Homo sapiens: one gene and its partners. The protein of the gene in region 1 interacts with the protein of each later gene in a pairwise test. Each region holds a gene or a part of one and is shown on either strand. Other genes may lie near its edges.

Evidence for each region.
Region 2: the proteins of TTYH1 (region 1) and HTR6 interact in a two-hybrid assay, tested with the Homo sapiens proteins (one large-scale study listed by BioGRID and IntAct).
Region 3: the proteins of TTYH1 (region 1) and DRD2 interact in a two-hybrid assay, tested with the Homo sapiens proteins (one large-scale study listed by BioGRID and IntAct).
Region 4: the proteins of TTYH1 (region 1) and GPR37 interact in a two-hybrid assay, tested with the Homo sapiens proteins (one large-scale study listed by BioGRID and IntAct).

Annotation. Positions count from the first base shown.
Region 1 is NC_000019.10:54,424,446-54,429,326, forward strand, and holds part of TTYH1 (protein tweety homolog 1), read left to right. Parts: intron 1-2,227; coding exon 2,228-2,323; intron 2,324-4,861; coding exon 4,862-4,881. UniProt on the Homo sapiens protein: Calcium-independent, swelling-dependent volume-regulated anion channel (VRAC-swell) which plays a pivotal role in the process of regulatory volume decrease (RVD) in the brain through the efflux of anions like chloride and organic osmolytes like glutamate.
Region 2 is NC_000001.11:19,670,357-19,675,237, forward strand, and holds part of HTR6 (5-hydroxytryptamine receptor 6), read left to right. Parts: intron 1-4,881. UniProt on the Homo sapiens protein: G-protein coupled receptor for 5-hydroxytryptamine (serotonin), a biogenic hormone that functions as a neurotransmitter, a hormone and a mitogen. Also has a high affinity for tricyclic psychotropic drugs.
Region 3 is NC_000011.10:113,415,508-113,420,388, reverse strand, and holds part of DRD2 (D(2) dopamine receptor), read left to right. Parts: intron 1-2,252; coding exon 2,253-2,362; intron 2,363-3,389; coding exon 3,390-3,526; intron 3,527-4,777; coding exon 4,778-4,881. UniProt on the Homo sapiens protein: Dopamine receptor whose activity is mediated by G proteins which inhibit adenylyl cyclase. Positively regulates postnatal regression of retinal hyaloid vessels via suppression of VEGFR2/KDR activity, downstream of OPN5.
Region 4 is NC_000007.14:124,758,845-124,763,725, reverse strand, and holds part of GPR37 (prosaposin receptor GPR37 precursor), read left to right. Parts: intron 1-4,881.

The DNA of each region.
Region 1 (4,881 bases):
GCCGACTGGGGCTGAAAAAGCTGGAGGTCAGGACACACCCGCAGGGCAGCAGGTGCAAGAGACAGACAGGCCTGGGTTTGAAGAAGTCCAGGTTCTGCATTGTGGTCAGGCCCAGGGGCTGCACAAGCCGGGCCTCAGCTCCTTCTCCTGGGCGAGGGCAGGGAAGTGGTGGGAGCCATAAGGGTGATGCCAGGGTGAGGCAGACCCACCATCACTAGAAAATATCTTCCGGGTGCACCACTGCGAAAGCACCCCACACTTGGGAGTCCCTCGACAGACAAATCAGGGGCCTCCAAGGGAGTCTTGCTGGAGGGGAGCACTTGCGAGGCTGGGCGGAAGCAGCCAGAGACCAGGGTAAGGAGTGAAGCCCAAGCTTGTGGGGCCTGCAGAGAATGGCAGGAGGATTAACTGAGCACTTACTACGTGCCGGGCACTGTGCTGTTGTTACGGCGGGTCCTTGCTCCCGGAGCTCCCAAGATCGTGGTGGCCACTTCCAAGAGGGCAGCAAGCCTCGTGTTCTCTGACCTGGGGTTCTTGGCCTCACGGATTCCAAGGAATGGAATCCTGGGCCCTGCGGTGAGTGTTTTAGCTCTATTAGAAGCCGTGGGTCACGGAAGAGAACCGTGGAACCCAGCGACCAGTGTTCAGCTCGATCAGGATGAACCCAGGCAGTTAGCTGTGCAGGAACAATGGCGAGCCTCTAGCCCGATTGGGAGCGGCAATGGGTGTCTCCCTGGATCACGAGCACAGTGGACACCCTGCCGGATCCGGAGGGTGGAAGTCAGCGGCGGGTCTGCGACGGCGGCAAACAGCAGTGGTGGACGGCGAGCGAAAGCTCAGCTCAAGCCGTAACAGACACGGACCAGAAGAGTGTGCAGTTTCAAGTTTTAATAGAGTGAAAACAGAGTTCCCATACAACGGGAGGGGACCCAAAGTGGGTAGCCGTTGCTGGCTGGAATGCCTGGGTTTCTATCCAGATCATTGTCCCTTCCCCTGTGCTCTCAGGTGATAGATGATTGGCTATTTCTTTACTTCCTATTTTTGCCTAACTAGCACTTTAGTGAGCTCTCTTTACTACCTGATTGGTTGGGTGTGAGCTAAATTGCATGCCCCGTGTTTAAAGGTGGATGCGGTCACCTTCCCAGCTAGGCTTAGGGATTATTAGTCGGCCTCGGACATCCAGCTAGTCCTGTCTCTCACTGTGGCTTGCATGCTTGCACCTCCTGAATCATGGTGGTGGGCCCTTCACTGATATTTAAGGATTAACTTTTTTTTTTTTTCATTTTTGAGACTAAGTCTCACTCTTGTCGCCCAGGCTGGAGTGCAGTGGTGCAATCTTGGCTCACTGCAACCTCCACCTCATGGGTTCAAATGATTCTCCTGCCTCAGCCTCCCAAGTAGCTGGGATTACAGGCGTGCACCACCACGCCCGGCTAATTGTTGTATTTTTAGTAAAGACGGGGTTTCACCATGTTGGCCAGGCTGGTCTCAAACTCCTGACCTCAAGTGATCCGCCTGCCTCAGCCTCCCAAAATGCGCGGATTACAGGCGTGAGCCACCTCGCCCGGCCAAGTATTAACTATTAACTAACATCTCAGTTCCCTCGTTCACGCTCAGGCTAACCTCTAAGTGTGTCCACGTGCTTGGCACTCTCCTAAGCACTTCTAGTCATGCAGCCCACTCGAGGCAATATTCTCAAGCCAGTGTTGTTGTGCTCCCCACGTTACATGTAGGGAAACTGAGGAACGAGAGGCTAAGGTTACCGAGACAAGAGTTACCCGGCCAGTTAAGCGGAGGGGCTGGGGTTGAGACCAGGCAGCCTCTGCCTCCAGACGTCATGCCCTCCAGGGATGCGATGGGATCTTTGGTGCAGTCTTGAGAACGAGTATCTCCACTCTGCAGGGTGGGGTTGGGGATGGGGAGCTCGGAGAGAACACATCACGTGTCCCTGGTCACAGGGCACATGTGTGTGGCCCGGCCAGGGGATAGTCCCAGGTGCTCAGGACCTGTATTCTAAACCGCTCCAGTGTCCTGTCTCATGATAACACTATTTCACAGAGGACCTGGGCTGTGGCCCAGACACAGTAAACAGCAGGAGGCTGAGCTTGGAGGGTGGTGAATGTGAGGCTGAGCTGGGGGGCAGGGTGAATGCTGGTGGAGGGTTGCTGTTCCGCCGGGGTGCCTGGAGGCAGGTTTGTGGTTTCAGCCCTACCCTCTCCCCTCCCAGGTGGCTGGCCTACGTCCTCCTGCTGCTCCTGGAGCTGCTGGTCTGCCTCTTCACCCTCCTGGGCCTGGCGAAGCAGAGCAAGTGGCTGGTGATCGTGTAAGTGCAGGCAGTAGGGGGACCCAGTGCTTGCCTGGCACTCTCCTGGCAGGCAGGACCTCAGTCTTACAACTCTCCTACACGGAGGACCGTGGTCCTTCACGGCCGGGTACACACGAAGAAAAGAGAGTCAGAGCAGCCCAGGAGGGAGGCGGGGACAGACCTGAAAACAGGCAGCCCTAACAGTATGAAGTATGCTGGAATCATGGCAGAAATAATCATTGTGTTGGCAATAAAGATGAGGATGAGGCCAGGCGCGGTGGCTCACACCTGTAATCCCAGCACTTTAGGAGGCCGAGGTGGGTGGATCATGAGGTCAGGAGTTTGAGACCAGCCTGACCAACATGGAGAAACCCTGTCTCTATTAAAAATACAAAAATTAGCTGGGTGTGGTGGCATGCGCCTGTAGTCCCAGCTACTCAGGAGGCTGAGGCAGGAGAATCGCTTGAACTCAGGAGGTGGAGGTTGTGGTGAGCCAAGATCACACACCATTGCACTCCAGCCTGGGCGACAGAGTGACACTCCATCTCAAAAAAAAAAAAAAAAAAAAAAAAAGGCTGGGCGTGGTGGCTCACGCCTGTAATTCCAGCACTTTGGGAGGCCGAGGAGGGCGGATCACGAGGTCAGGAGTTCGAGACCATCCTGGCTAACACGGTGAAACCCCATCTCTACTAAAAATACAAAAATTAGCCGGGCGTGGTGGCGGGCGCCTATAGTCCCAGCTACTCGGGAGGCTGAGGCAGGAGAATCGCTTGAACCCGGGAGGCGGAGCTTGCAGTGAGCTGAGATTGCACCACTGCACTCCAGCCTGGGCGACACAGTGAGACTCCATTTCAAAAACAACAACAACAAAAAAAAAAAACAGATGAGGATGATGATCTATTGAGGGTCATGCACGCTGAGTCCTTCAGTTGCCTCCACCCCATGAAGGAGCTACCATAAGGCTCCATGTGGCCGGTCAGGGACCTGACTAAGAGCGCAGAGGGTGGCCAAGTCCAAGACTGAGCCGTCCTTAAGTGTCGTGGCAAAGCCGCAGGACCACACTGATTTCACAGCTCGCTCTACGCGCCCGACACTCTTCTCTGCACTCCCTGGAGCACCTCATGCCCCCTGTGAGGAAGGTGCTTCCTTCTGCCTGTTTTTTATTTCTGTTTTTTATTTTGAGAAGGTCTTGCTTTGTTGCCCAGACTGGAGTGCAGTGGCATGATCACGGCTCACTACAGCCTCTGTCCCCTGAGGCTCAAGTGATCCCCCCACCTCAGCCTCCAGAGTAGCTGGGACCATGGGCTTATGCCACCACTCCCGGCTAAGTTTTTTTTTTTTTTTTTTTTTTTTTTTGAGCTGCAATTTGGCTCTTGTTGTCCAGGCTGGAGTTCAGCGGCGCGATCTTGGCTCACTGCAACCTCTGCCTCCTGGGTTCAGGCAATTCTCCTGCTTCAGCCTCCCAAGTAGCTGGGATTACAGGCGTATGCCACCAAACCTGTCTAATTTTGTATTTTTAGTAGAGATGGGGTTTCTCCATGTTGGTCAGGATGGTCTCAAACTCCTGACCTAAGGTGATCCGCCCGCCTCAGCCTCCCAAAGTGCCTGGATTACAGGCATGAGCCACCGTGCCTGGCCTAAGTTTTGTATATTTTTGTAGAGATGGAGTCTTGCTATGTTGCCCAGGCTGGTCTCGAACTCCTGGCCTCAAGTGATCAGCCTGCCTCAGCCTTCCAAAGTACTGGGTTTACAGGCATGAGCTACCATGCCTGGCCCTTCTCCCTGTTTAACAGAGGGAGAGACTGAAGATCAGAGAGGTTGGACCACTTGCTCAGGGCCACACAGCTAGAAGTGCTAGAGCTGGGATTTGAACCAGACAGGCCATTCTCATTGGAGGAGTCCCTGCATTCTCTCTGGCCCTGGTGGGGTGAGGCAGAGTTGAACCTGTACCTCCATTGCCCCTGAGAGAGTGGGAGAGACCCCGCGTAAGGCTTGCAGACCCATAAACCTAGCCAACACAGGGCAGGTCTGGGACTGGAAGCCAGGCCTTCAGTTTGGGGACCCCTGGGTGCCCTTCTTGCTTACTGGTCACCCTACCAATGCTGACACGCCCCCTGCACCCCTCCCCACCCGGAAAGTCCAGAGACTTTCAGATTTCAGCCCTGGCACTGTCTCCCATTCTCAGAGGAGACAGGGCAGAGCCAGAGGCTGATCAGGCTGTGGGTGGACTTGGGGGAGCCTTCGGGGGAAGTGAGCCCAGAGGTGAGCAGTCACCGTCCCAGGGTCCTGGAGCTGGGATCCAAGCTGCGACCACCCAGCCCAGGGCCCTGCTCATACCCCACACCCTGCTCATCTGGGCAGGAGCCAGATGTCCAGCTGGACATCAGCAGCCACTGGCCTACCCCCAACCACTGAACTTGTGTTTCCCTAATTCTGATCCTCCAGGCTCCAGAGGTGGGTGGAGGTGGGGGGCGGCTGTGATGGGATTTGGGGTGTGGAAAGAGGCTAGGCTAGGAGATTAAGAACCCCGGGCTGATCCTCCCTCCCCCACTCTAGGATGACAGTCATGAGTCTCC
Region 2 (4,881 bases), on another chromosome or scaffold:
GCACCTCCTACCCCCTGACGTGTTCTATACCTACCCATTTTTATTTATTTACTGTTTATTTCCTTCTTCTAGAATTTAGGCCTATGAGGGTGGGGAACTTGTTTTTCTGCCTTTTTTTTTTTTTTTGAGACAGAGTCTCACTTTCTCGCCCAGGCTGGAGTGCAGTGGCGTGATCTTGGCCCACTGCAACCTCCGCTTCCCAGGTTCAAGCAATTCTCCTGCCTCAGCCTCCGGAGTAGCTGGGCTATAGGTGCACATCGCCACACCGGGCTAATTTTTTGTATTTTAGTAGAGATGGGGTTTCACTGTGTTGCCCAGGCTGGTCTTGAAACCCTGAGCTCAGGCAATCCACCCGCCTTGGCTTTCCAAAGTGCTAGGATTACAGGCGTGAGCTACCATGCCTGGCCTGTCTTTCTGTTTTCCCCCATGGTCCCAGGAATTAGGGGCACCTGGCACATCATGGGTGCTCAGTATGTATTGATGGAAGGAATGCAGTGTACACAGTGCTTCAGGGAGCCTGGTATTCCAGCCCTGTTTGTGCGGTTGCCTGTTTTCTCATGCCTTTCAGAGTCACTTCTTGAGTGTCATGATCCTGAACTTTTTATCGTGTGAATTCATTTGCTTGGTGACATGTATTGACACCTGCTTTGCACAGCAGCTGTTCTAGGCTGTGTATGTAGTGGTGAACGAGACCAACAGTGCCTGCCCTCTTGAAATCTGTTCTAGTTAGGAGTACAGACATTAATCATCAAACTGTACCACGATGAGGATTATGGAGCTTATAGGAGGGATGCTTCACCCAGCAAACATTCAAAATCTATTATTCACTGTGTATGTTTGAAGATGAAAGCAAAGCACTCACACCAAGCCCTAAAGTGAAAGGCTGGAGGGGTCTTCATGGGTTGGTTAGGCCAGCGCCTTACTTCTAAGGCAGAGTGACTCAGGGGCCTCTCAAGCCAGAAATGTGTCTGTTCTAATCCCCCCGCTTTCTGGAAAGCCCATTCTCTTGGTTTGAACGTGACGTGTGCAAATTCTGCCTCTGTTCCTGCTTTCAAATCCACTCGGCTCCTTAAGTAAGCCTCCTGCAGGCCGTTTTCCTGATTGCCTGGTGAACGGCCTGCACTTTGGGAAAATGCATCTGAGAAATTGCATTGGCCCTCCTGGGTCACCGCCTCTTTCTTCCCACCAGAGCTGGCCTGGAGGTGGAGGCCCCCTCAATGTTTGGACCTAAAGGAAGTGATGAGAATGAATCAGATGTGGGTGTCTTGGACCCCTTCCCTTTTCCTGTGCCCAGCCCCACTTAGCCTTGGCTTCCTGCCCCATTCCACTCTCTAGCTTCCCTGCAGAGGGAAAGGAGCTGGGCATAGGTCTCGAGGCCCCAGTTCCTCTGGGGTCAGAACATGGGAGCTGGTCAGCCTTGAGCATTTCATCCCCTCTCCATATGTCTATTTATGGAAATGGGCTTTTAAAAGGCCACTGGTTGGCTTAGTGATTTCCACTAGGTCTTCCCACCACCTCAGGGCTGGGAGGAAGGGGTCCTGCTTAGCACTGTGGCTGGGAGTGTGGGCTGGGGATGGAGGAAGAGCCGTGGGGCAGAGTGAGGAGCTACCAGGGCAGGGGAGTGTGTGTGTTGGGAGCAGGGTGGAAGGTGGGGGCCTGGATGTGGGTGGCACTGAGCCATCCTTGGGAGATTGTGGAGGGTCCAGGGTGTTAGGGGCAGTTTCAGAGATGCAGCATGGGCCACTGGCTTGAGGGAGAGCCCAGCAGGAGAGGCCCAGCCTCCTCCTCTTCCTGGCAGGATTTCTGGGTCTCTGTGGTCCATAACCTCATCCCATCTCTACACCTCACCTTCCTCCCCACTCCCATCCATCCTTCTCTCCTTCAGTTCCCATGTCTTCCTTCTGTGTGCCCCGTCTTCCCCTCCCCCTTCTCCTGTCCCATCAATTTCTCCCGCTTTTCCTCCTCCCCCTCCTTTTTTCACCCTCTCTCACCCAACTAAGCGTCATTCTGTCTTAGTGATCCATCTTCCCTTCCATCTCTGTCTTTCCTCCTCCTCAGAGGAGGAGGCTGTGATCACAGAAATATCTGTGAGGGGGAGGAGGGGGCCGAGCCAGGGAGAGGCTGGCAGAGTGACACTGCCGAGCATGGCAGGCTTGGCTGCTGCTCAGAGCCAGGCAGCCTGGTGCAGCCAGGGCTGGAGCAGGAGCTTGGGGGTCTGGCTGGTTAGGGTTCAAGCCCTGCCTCTTTTGCCTCATAGCTGGACGATCTTGGGCAAGGCATTTTACCTCCTTATGCTCCAGGGGTCATGACATCTATCACACAAGTCTGTTTGAAGAGTCAATTAGATAATATACATAAAATACCAGGCACATAGTAAGTGCTCAACAAATTTCAGCTAGGCAGTGACTCACAACTGTAATCCCAACACTTTGGGAGGCCAAGGCAGGAGGATTCTTTGAAGCTAGGAGTTCGAGACCAGCCTGGGCAACATAGCGAGCTCCTGTCTCTAAAAATATATATAAAAAATTAGCCAGGCCTGGTGGCACATACCTTTAGTTACAGCTATTCGAAGAGGCTGAGGTGAGAGGATTGCTTGAGCCCAGGCAACAGAGCAAGACCCCATCTTTAAAACAACAACAATAGTTGTTCGTGCCTCTCTTTTCCTGTTGTTGGTAAAATATGTTTCTGGGGAGCTCACCACCTTGACCCTTTCTAGGGAAAAACATCACTGCTGTCACCAGCACCATCACCATCATTATCAAACAGCTGAGCCAGAGACTAATAATAATGACAACAATAGCTAACACTTCTATGGGACTTCCTATGTGCTGGCACTGTTCTAACTTTCAGTGTATTATTTTATTTTATCCTTATTATAATCCTATGAGGTAGATGCTATTTTAGTGCCATTTTACAGAACAGAAAGTGGAAGCATAGATGAAGTAACTTGCTTAAGGTCACTCCACTAGTTTGTAACAGAGCCAGGATTTGAAACCAGGCAGTCTGGCTCCAGAGTCTGTCTTGTAACTCTCACACTATGATCAGATGATGGTAACAAAATTTAATTGTGGGCTGGGCGTGGTGGCTCACGCCTGTAATCCCAGCACTTTGGGAGGCCGAGGTGGGTGGATCACCTGAGATCGGGAGTTTGAGACTAACATGGAGAAACCCCATCTCTACTAAGGTACAAAATTAGATGGGCATGGTGGTGCACACCTGTAGTCCCAGCTACTTGGGAGGCTGAGGCAGGAGAATCGCTTGAACCCGGGAGGCAGAGGTTGTGGTGAGCCGAGATCGCGCCATTGCACTCCAGCCTGGGCAACAAGAGCGAGACTTCGTCTCAAAAAATAAATAAATAAATAAATAAAATTAATTGCACAAAGGAATACATAAATACACTTTAAAAATTCAACAATAGGGATGAAGGAAAAGACCTCCAAATTCCAGCTAATCACCTTTCACTCCCAGGGACATGCATCAATTTAGGATATGTCCTTCTAGGTCTTTTTTTTTTTTTTTTTTTCTGTTAGGACAGAGTGTCACTCTGTCACCCAGGCTGGAGTGCAGTGGTACAACCACGGCTCACTGCAGCCTTGACCTCTTCTGACTCAGGTGATCCTCCCACGTCAACCTCCGGAGTAGCTGGGGCTACAGACGCACATCACCATGCCTGGCTAATTTTTGTATTTTTTGTAGAGATGGGGTTTCACCATGCTGCCCAGGCTGGTCTTGAACTCCTGGACTCAAGCAATCCACCTGCCTCGGCCTCCCAAAGTGCTGGGATTACAGGTGTGAGCCACTGCACCTAGCCCTTCCGGGTCATTTTCTATGTGCTTATGTATTTATACAGGTACTTAAAGAAACTTGGTGCTTTGTGTTGGATATTGTTTTTTAAACAAATAGGATCATGCTGTATCTATTACTTTGCAACCTGCTATTATAATTTAATAATCATGGAGATCTTTTCATTTGATTGATTCATTCTTTTAAAACATCTGTGTAGTATTCTGTAGTGGGAATTCACCGTGGTTTATTTAAGCCACTCTTCTCTTTTTTTTTTTTTTTTTTGAGACAAACTCTCACTCTGTCACCCAGGCTGGAGTGTGGTGGTGTGATCTCGGCTCACTGCAGCCTCCACCTCCTGGGTTCAAGTGATTCTCCTGCCTCAGCCTCCTGAGTAGTGGGACTACAGGCATGCACCACCACACCTGGCTAATTTTTTTATTTTTAGCAGAGACAGGGTTTTGCCATGTTGGCCAGGCTGGTCTCGAACTACTGACCTCAAGTGATCTGCCCACCTTGGCCTCCCAAAGGGCTGAGATTATAGGCGTGAGCCACTGTGCCCAGCCTAAACCACTCTTCTTTTGATGGACATTAAGGCTGTTTCCAATTTTTTCCTATCACAAGTAGTGCTGTGGGACACATTCTTGGATATGTGAAGCGTGCAGACATGAATGTAGGTGTTGGCTGGAAGCTGTATGTGTGATTGTTGGCTGGAAGGGCCCTGGATTGTCCTTCAGGAAGCTGCCCTCTGACACTGATACAGAAGGGAGATGCAAACGACAGGACATGGCCCCAAGGGGCTGCGAGGTGCTTATGGGGGAGAGAGAATCCAGAAGGGTGATGCCAGCATCAGCCAGATGCCGGGGTGTGGACTAGTGACAGCCATTGGCTTCTGCTCCATGAGGGCCTCTTGCTGACAGTGGTGGGGTTTCTGTAACCCCACCTGACTGGGCCCATGGATGCCGTCTCCAAAGGTGGAAGCAGCTTGGTGAAGTGGGCAGAGTGGTGTTCCTGAGGCCAGAAATGATGGAATCCCTAACTCAACTCTTAACTGCTGTGTGACTTCTGGCAAGTCATTTTGCCTCTCCGAGCCTCAGT
Region 3 (4,881 bases), on another chromosome or scaffold:
GAAATCTCTTTGTTATTCTGGGCTCCAGATAGGCCAGTGCAAGGAGAGATTTAAGATGTCCATGAAGGCAGGACTGTGTCTGAATTGCTCACAACTGTGTCCAGGAGCCTAGGATAGAGGCTGGAACACAGTAATTTGCTCAATAAGTGTTTGTAGGAAAGAAGGGATGGCAGAAAGGAGGGAAGGAGAGGAGGAAGACAGGGAGGAAGGCCCTGATATCTCAACCTAGATCCCCAGTGGCTCCCAAGTACTGGTCCCAGGAGGGGCTTCAAAGTGGGATGTAAATCAGGTAGTGCTGGTTTTCTGCCCAGTGGTACCCTAAAGGCACACTCTGTTTATGCCAGGAAAGCCCTTTACGTACCCTCCTGCCTCCACCCGCAAAATGGGCATCCAGCTGTTAGCTCCTGCCAAACTGGTCAGCGCAGCAGCACAGGGAGCTGGGAGAGAGGCCCTGGTACGGGGCCCCCATGTGAGCTCCCAGGAAGACAGTGCCGCATGAGAGGCTTGCTGTGTTCTGGGGCAAGCTGCTGTTTCTGCCACACAGGATGACAGCAGCTGCATTGCCCATCATTGAGCTTAAATGCCAGCATTTGGTTGGATGCCTAGGAGCAGAAGAGAGGGCAGTGATCAGAATGAGCAAGGTTATAATTAGCCCTGCTGCCAAGCTACACGGTGACACGAAGTCTGCCCTACTCCGGGTTGCGGGAGGGGGCTTTCACGCTCCTCTCTGCTCCTATTGGTAGAAGCCAAAGGTGCATCTCCCTGTCCTGACTCCATCCTCAGGGAACTGGGGCTGCTCCAAGCTTCCAGAGCGCTAGGGACAGCTGCCGTGAGTGTGTGCCTGCGTAATCTGCCATGAGTGTGTGCCTGTGTGTGAATGGGTGTTACGTGGGGAGGGGGGAGGGCGGTGCGTTCATGTGTGTGTGTGTGTGTGTGTGTGTGCCTGTGTGCATGTGTGTATGAGAAACGTGCTCCTGCCAGGAGCTAGACTCTTCATTTCCCATCCTACCAAGGACACAGCTCATCACAGCAACCCCTCCGCCTACCCCAGCCCACTCGGGTGTTCCTCGAGCACTAGCCCAGATCTGCCTTCTTTCGTTCTCTGGGTATAAGAAGGAGCAGAAATTTCTTCTCTGTTTCATGGCGAGTCTTCATCTTCACCATTATTCTTAACAGATCATTTTGGGGCCCCGACTCTGCCATGTACTGGGCCAACCACTGAAGGGCTTGCCTGGCTCAGCCAGAGCCTGGGCCAGAGCAGGACTAGGAACTGAGCCCACAGGCCTTGGGGAAATCACTGCACTTTTTGGAGGCTTGGTTTCCTCATTGGTTCTCAGTTTCCTCACGGGCATTCTAAAATTTTACCTGGAATCTAATTTACAGAGGTATGGCTGAGTGATAACACAGGGAAGCCAGTGCCATTGGGAAGAGTTTAACGTGATACACAATGTCCCTAGAAACCAGATGCTCAGCCCGCCATGTGGGGTGCAGGGGGAAGCAGCAGGCTTGGGTCAAGAGTCAGAATCAGGGGTGAGGGAAAGCCCAGGCTACAGCCCTGTTGGGGCTCCCACAGGAAGTGCAAGGCAGGGCAGATTAAGCAACCTAGGGTTGGCTAGTCTCAACATCCTGGCAGGCTTTGGGCTACAGGGGTGATCTCTAGTTGTCTCTCTGGTACCTGAGATAATTTGGGACAGGGGAAATATTGTCTTGGTGTGTGTGTGAATTAGAGAAACGGGGTGGCTGGCTTGCATTTGAGAGGCATCCTTCCAAGTCAGTCATTTTCTGTCTTCAGGAATTAACTAGCTCTGGGACAGTAAGTCTCTCTCTGGGTCTGTGAGGCTCCCAAGTGCCAGAATATCAGGATCAGAGAAGATAGAAAAATATAGTCAATATAGGTGTCTCTGTGATGAATGGGTGCCAAATACACAAATACAGAATCTAAGAAAACACATGGGGTTAACAAAGGTTGCAGAGATTAAGGTTTAAAGTTGAGGCCCTCCGTATAAGTTGGCTGTCTTTCTTCTAGCACAGTAATTGGCAATAAGTGGTCTTATGTATCTGGGAGAAGATAAGCGAGGGGCAAGGGCCTCAGACACCCATGGGCATCACTCCCCACACCCCAGCTGGATGCCCACAAGACTTGCAGCTGCCTCCTGAGTCTGTGGCCTCATCGGCTCCAGGAGTACCAGGCTACAGGACCTAAGCTAATCTCCCACTCCTGCTGTCCATCCATTATGTTGCTTTGTCCCCAGGTGGTAGGTGAGTGGAAATTCAGCAGGATTCACTGTGACATCTTCGTCACTCTGGACGTCATGATGTGCACGGCGAGCATCCTGAACTTGTGTGCCATCAGCATCGACAGGTGAGCCCAGCCAGGGTGGAAGAGGTTGCTCTGGCCACTCACCATTCTGGCTGCCCCAGCTTTTCTCAAAGCCAGGCTGTGTCTCGTGTCTGTGATGCTGTGCAGCTGGCTGTGTGCATGGGGGTCCATGTGTTTGTGTGTATGGGTGTGCATGTGTGTATGTTTGGCTAGGAGAGCACACACTCCCTAAAGAGAAGCCATCTATGGACAGTGATGCTGCCAAGCATACTCAGACAGTGACTGGTACAAAAGGGGAAAGATTGTGATTCTGACGGAAGCCCTAGCTCTAGCACATCTTACTCATGTGACCTTGGGCAGATGATGGACGTTTTCAGAGCTCTCAGTTTCATTTTCTAGAAACCTACATTGATGACACCTGTGGCCTGGAGCTGCAGTATCTGGTTATGCATTTTATGTCCTTGGCACATGGCCAAGGGTCCCAGGCCATGCACACCTTGCTAAGCTGCATCCTTGGAGCCTTCCACTAATTTGCACAGATATGACCCTACCTCCCTCACACCATTCTTGGAAGATGAAATAAGTTAATGAATGAGAAGGGCTGGGTAAAAAAAAAAATGTGATGAAGGATTGTAGACAATTGCCATTGTTATTTCCTGCTAACTAAGGCTTAAATCTTGCTCTGAGGGGCCTGGCTAACAATTTATCAACAAACATTTCCACCTTATGGGCTCAACACAAGTGCAGTGGGTACAGTTTCAAAAGTGCAAAGATGCAGGCCATGGTTCTTCGAAAAGCCTGAAATCCAGGTGGGGCCGGTTAGAATAATAGATATGAGCTAAGAGTAAACAATAGCTCACCAGTGATTAAGTGTTTGGGCTTTGCCAACTGTCCTCGCCATCTGAGTTTGGGGACAGGAGGGAGGGTTGAGTTAGCATCTCAGGCAAGCTTCATAGAGGTGTGTCAACTGTTTAGCCCCAAGGAGTGAGGGTGTCTCTGGTGTGTGCATATTGTGGAGTGAGGGGTCCCTGGGCCTGCACCCCAGATTCAGGGTCCCCCGCCCTTGCAGGTACACAGCTGTGGCCATGCCCATGCTGTACAATACGCGCTACAGCTCCAAGCGCCGGGTCACCGTCATGATCTCCATCGTCTGGGTCCTGTCCTTCACCATCTCCTGCCCACTCCTCTTCGGACTCAATAACGCAGGTACATTCTGCTTTTGTTTGCCTGAGGCTCAGCTGGCCCTGGGCCCCTGCTCCCTCGAAGGGCCCTGAGGGAGCAGAGTCCCTGGCACAGATATGGGTGGAGGCCCAATGGAGGCCTATCACTACCCTGGACTGAGTCCAGGCTACGTGTCCTGGGCCAAGCCCCACTCAAGAGTTGTTCTAGGTTGGCAGAGAGGAAACAGTGGCCCAGGACACAACGGAGTTGGATGAGGAGTGGGGATAATGGTTCAGGGGTATGTCTGGGAATTTTCAACTTTGGTTATTAAGTTGAAGAGGCAAGACGTGCTTCACAAACTGCATGTGTGTATATGTGCACATGAACATGGGATGGCGGAGGCTACTGGGCTTCCATCCACTCCTGACAATAGTATTTTTGTAATGAAGCTGCAGCCCTCAGGGCCTGCTAAACCCAGGTCAGGCCTTAGCCACCTGGAGCAGGAAAGCTAGAAGTGAATAGGAGGTAAGCTGACCACATGCCCATTTCTGTGGGAGGCAGAGTCAGGAGTGTCTCAGACAGAGGCAACACAAAGCCCCCGCCAGCGTGGAACTTCCTCTCATCAGGGAGGCAAGAGCGATGGCAGGTGTGCACCTCTGGAGATCGTAACAACAAAAGATACAGTGAAGCCTTGAAAATGTGTGGTTCGGTATCTATTATAAGCATCACAGGAATTCTAAGTGGGAATAACACTAAACATACTTGGATTAATGCACAAGGCCCTGAGATAGAGGACAGGCGTCTGGTAGACCTAGAAGGGCACGCAAACATATGAAACACATAGGAACACAAGTGAGTTCAACAGACAGAGCCAAGTTATCTTGCTGCAAACATTAAAAGGTGGCCAACCTCTCCCAATACACAGGTCAGACTAAAAAGATGGTTTACTCTTTTAAAAGTTTTCTTGTGTCATTCTTTCTGGATACATCGGCTTCACTTGTTATGCCCAGACATGGCAAAACTAATGACCAAGTAATGAGGGAATAGTAATGGAAAGACTTGGGAGCAGTCCATCATCACAGCTTAACTTTTTGCTCACAACCGTGTTTTTAATACTCTGGTATCTGCTGTGCGTTTGTGTATATCTAAGATGACCAGGCAGCCTTAAACATCTAGTTGCGTTCATATTCTCTGTAAAATCGCTCCTTGTTCCTGGAAGGACATGAATGGGCTCTTGTGGAATTATGGCCGGTGGGCCCGCTGACTCCCTGCCTGCCCGGGCTCTCCCTCCCCCAGACCAGAACGAGTGCATCATTGCCAACCCGGCCTTCGTGGTCTACTCCTCCATCGTCTCCTTCTACGTGCCCTTCATTGTCACCCTGCTGGTCTACATCAAGATC
Region 4 (4,881 bases), on another chromosome or scaffold:
GATCTCACAATATACAGAATTGTTTGGAGTATAAATCTATCTCCCTGAATATGGTGTTATGCGTATTTCTGATTTGGCACTTGTCAGAGATTTTAGGGTTAAGTAAATGGCCAGCCTAAGGTTGTCATCATCAGAGCCTACAAGGAAAAAAAAAAAAACATTAGCATTTGTGTACTAGTTACCAAGTGCTTCAATGTGAGTTTTCCCCCAAGAAGATTATTGCATTTTTTCTTAAACAGCAAAGTTGGAGTAACATTTTATTGAAAGAAAGAAAGAAAGAAAATTGTGTTTGTCAGTTGGCCTCATGATATATTAATAACCTCTCAAATTAGTTTAAGTGTCTGACTGTCTTCCATGCTATCCCATCTAAATTCTTAAGTCATTTTTTGTTCCTGTCTTTTCCCATCTCGGTTTCTTAATTTTATTTTTGTGTGTTTGCGTGAACTTAAGCAAAAATAAGACTTTGGCCAGCGTGGCACATAATTTGTTTAACATTCTCAAAGTTATACATTTGTTATTTGTTATGGGTGGAAAGATTGGCTATTTTAAGGGATTGACCCTAAGACTAGAAAATTTCTTGGGAAGAAGGGGGCACATCTAGTTTCCAAACTTTGGAAACAAAAATCATTTTGAGTGAAATTGCATTGTTTCATCCTACAGCTAGTGTCCTGGCCCACTATTGTGGTAGGTGGACTTTGCTCTTTAAATGGCCTCTCTTTAAACACCAGCTCTTGGAAGGGGCCCAACTGTTTTGCTGCCAGTTGTGTTTTTAGCCAGCTGGCCCTTGATTTTCTCCATTCAGACTGTCCATTTCATTTATGGAAGCAGAAGAAGGGAAACTGTAAATATTCCGCAGCCCCTGATCCTGTCTGGCACCAGGGCCTGTGACACTATGTTCAACATTGTTCCAGGCCTAAAGCTGGGGGATAAGTAAACAGAAAACAGTACCTACTTAGACGGACCAAAGCTGGAGACAGTAAATAAGACCCTCTGTTATCTTGACAGGGATCAGGTGCAGGATCATTCCATGACTATGAAATCAGCTGTTGCTGCTTTAGCAGCGTCCATGATTTCTCCTGTTGCCAAGCTTGGCGTATCTCTGAAACATCTACTTTGTTTGGTAGACAATTCATTTTTGAATTGTGAAGGAGCCAGTTGAACTCATGTTAGAGAATATGTGTCTATTTACCAAACTGCCTCTTCAAGGTCAGTTTCAAATTTCTTTTTTTCTTTTTTTTTTTTTATCAGAAGAAATTGACTTATGCAAGAAAGAGACAAAAGTATAAAGCGGACAAGAGAGGTACCTCAATGACAGAGAAGTGTATTGGCTTATCTCACTGGAAATGTACTGGACATGTAGAAATCTGTATACACTAGAGGGAAAAACAATAGGACAGAAAAAGGAAATTGGGGAAAGAAAAATAAAAACACCAAAGTTCTTGAAAGAACACCTTAAAAGAAAAGAATATCAAATTCAGGAAAGATTATAAAAACTTTGGTTAATTTAATGAGATATAAGCATTTTGAGCAATGGCATTTATTATGTACTTATTTTAATTTTCTTTTTCCGTAATTCTGAGTTTGTACAAATGTAATACTTTCTTTCATTTGTATTTCACTTTTTAATTTAATCAGCTCCTCCTTAAGAGTGCTTTGTTTTTTGCCTCTTATTATTAGTAAAATCTTTTACTTTCTGTATTTTTGCTTAACTTTTCCCCATCCTAGTAGCTTTCTCTATTTTTCAGTTATTAGTGCTAGCATTTATTTTTCTTAGAGAATCAAAGGCTTAAAAAATTCACTCATTTATTTTTTAAAATTACAGTATAATATACATTTTTACTGTTAAAATAGTGAATGAACATCTTAATATGTAGCATTTCTATATTTCTACCTAATCCTTATTACTCTGAAATAATTTTAGAATGGTTTATAAAAATAATTATTGGACAATATTGCTGGCTTCATAATTCCTGATTACTGAGAACAAGAACTACAGTCCAAATCTCAAAATAAAAGTGTGTCTCCAGGAGGCACTGATGTTTTCACAAAAGTAAGAGGTATTTAGGGTTTCTCCTACGTTGGGTTCCTGCAAAAACAGGCCCTGAGATGTAGATTTATTGGGGCATCAAGTTTATTGGGTTGTGCTCTCAGGTTCAACCTATTAAGGAAAGAAGAAAGCAGGATTGGGCGGGCAAAGGGAGAAGTTGAACTGTGATGCAATTGCCACAGAGACCTCAGCTGACACCATTAGGAGCTTTAGGGCTGGGATGGCCATGCAGCCATATCCCAAATTGAGGCAAGAGGGCTCAGCCTTTACATCTCTTTATGGACCAGTCATTAGATGTAAGACATTGGATGCAAGCCTGCTCCCAGGATGGGGTATAACCTTGAGTTGGGTGGATCTCTTTGGTCAAGGGCAATTCCTAGAGAGGGATGCAGCTAAGCACTGTCAACCAATAGCCCCAGCAGCTGGAGGAATCAGTGCTTCATTCTTGAAGGACTTTGGAGGGAGCTGTCTGGGTGGAAAACCACAGCATCCACTACAGTAGCTTTTTTTTTTTTTTTTTTTTTGAGACGGAGTCTTGCTCTGTCACCAGGCTGGAGTGCAGTGGCACGATCTCAGCTCACTGCAACCTCTGCTTCAGGGGTTCAAGCTATTCTGCCTCAGCCTCCCAAGTAACTGGGACTACGGGTGCGTGTCACCACACCCGGCTAATTTTTTTTGTATTTTTAGTAGAGATGGGCTTTCACCATGTTGGCCAGGATGGTCTTGATCTCCTGACCTTGTGATCTGCCCACCTCTGCGTCCCAAAGTTCTGGGATTACAGGCGTGAGCCACCACGCCCAGCTTACAGTAGCTTTTGAACAATCATGTTAAATCAGACATAGATAATGTTCTAATCCAACTCCCTCATTTTAAAGATGAAATTTGAAGCTCAGAGACTATCCTAAACATATATACCTGGTCAGTAGCCACCAGACCCTTGGTCTCAATGCTTCATGTTTATATTTGCTGATTAGACCAACCTGTATGAAGCACAAGCTTTATCCAGTGAGTGTTTTCTTTTCCTTTCCGCTCCTTGGCATCTGAAAAATTTTTTCTTTTTTTAATCCACTAGACAGGAAAAAATAAAAACCCGTAAACATCATTTGTTATATAATGAAATGTATAGCTTCTTTTGTTTCTCATAAACTGTCAGTAAGTTCTGCAATTGGTAGTTAATTAAAATTTTTTAAATTGCAGTAATCTGAGACAACTATACTTTTTAATTTGCCTAGCATGATGACTTTAATGACCAAAAAGTTATATAGGTTAAATTTTATGTTCTTAAAATCATGAAGTATGTTAGATTGGTGAAGGACATTACAAGTACATTACATTTGTTCAAACTTTCTCCAAATCCCCTTCCAAAATTTTGCCTCTGACCTCAAGACTTTTAAAAATTTTTTGACATCTTGTCTACTTTCATATTTCTAAATTTTGCCATTCCTTCACTTGTTACTTTCTTATTTTATTTCTTGGCTATTTTTCCTTTCTTTAACTATGTATAATACCTTCTTATAGATTTATGATGTAGCATTCACCATTTTCCAGTAAGATGTTTAACCTTTTTCAGTGTTTTTATTTTTAATTTTTTCGTAGTTAATTTTAAATTTTATTCTCAATAGATTATGATTGAATTTTATAATTTTTCTCTCCCAGCTTCTCTTTTGCTTTATTTTTCTTTTCTACCACAGTTCTTTCTCCTGTACAGCTTGAGCGTTAGCATAATCTGAAGGGAATCGTGGGATTTTGGGGAAGATTTGGGTTTGTGTAGAAAAATATGAGGTACTTCTTGAGTAAAAACTATACTTTTTCTAATTTTCATTCAACTCCTCTTTCTATTTTAATTTGTTGGCCTAAAGCTTGAGGATAGCACCCAGCTTCCAAGGTCTATTGTGAGAAAGGAAGTTTTATGATGTTTAATATTGCCGTGAGTGAGAATGTTCTGGGAACTGTTGTAGTTGATGACTTTTCCCTTTCTATTCCAGGATTATGACATCTTTATGGCCTAATAATAAATCTCATAAAGTCGAAGGACAAATGAAATGGTAGGAAATGCCAGATAGGAGAGAAGAAAATTTGGATAGATCATGGCCGTCCTCCTAGACACATCAGTTTAAAGTGGTTTATTACTTAGCCACAAGAAAAAAACTATACTCAAAACAAAACTTGTATATGTAGTGTGCTTTTATGTGTATTAGGGGAGGTGGAGATATGTGTGGGTGTGGATTGCAATAGGAGAATGGCAGAGGAGTTCTCTACCATACCTACCATTCACTTAGGAATCTAACAAGTGTTTAAAACCAAATAATTTGGGCCAGGTGTGGTGGCACACCCCTGTAATCTCAGCACTTTGGGAGGCCTATGCAGGCAGATTGCTTAAGCCCAGGAGTTCAAGATCAGCCTGGCCAACAGGGCGAAACTCCATCTTTACAAAAAATACAAAAATTAACGGGATGTGGTGGTGCATGCCTGTAGTCCCAACCATTCAGGAGGCTGGGGTAGGAGGATTTCTGGAGCCTTGGAGGTTGAAGCTGCAGTGATCCATGATCATGCCACTGCATTCCAGCCTAGGTGACAGAGTGGGACCCTGTCTCAAAAAAAAAAAAAAAAAATTCAAATAATTCAGACATCAAATATGGCAACTGGAATGAATCTTTGCTCATTATTTAATGGAAGTCAGAATCAAGGTATCATCTGACCGAGATCCCAGATAACAGATTAAGGTCTGTTTGGACATTAATTGGAGGTTTTGAATGATCGAGATTCTCTTTAGTTTAAAGAACCCACACCTTCATGGAGTGTTGTAGAACAGAAGGCTTCAAATAATTATAATG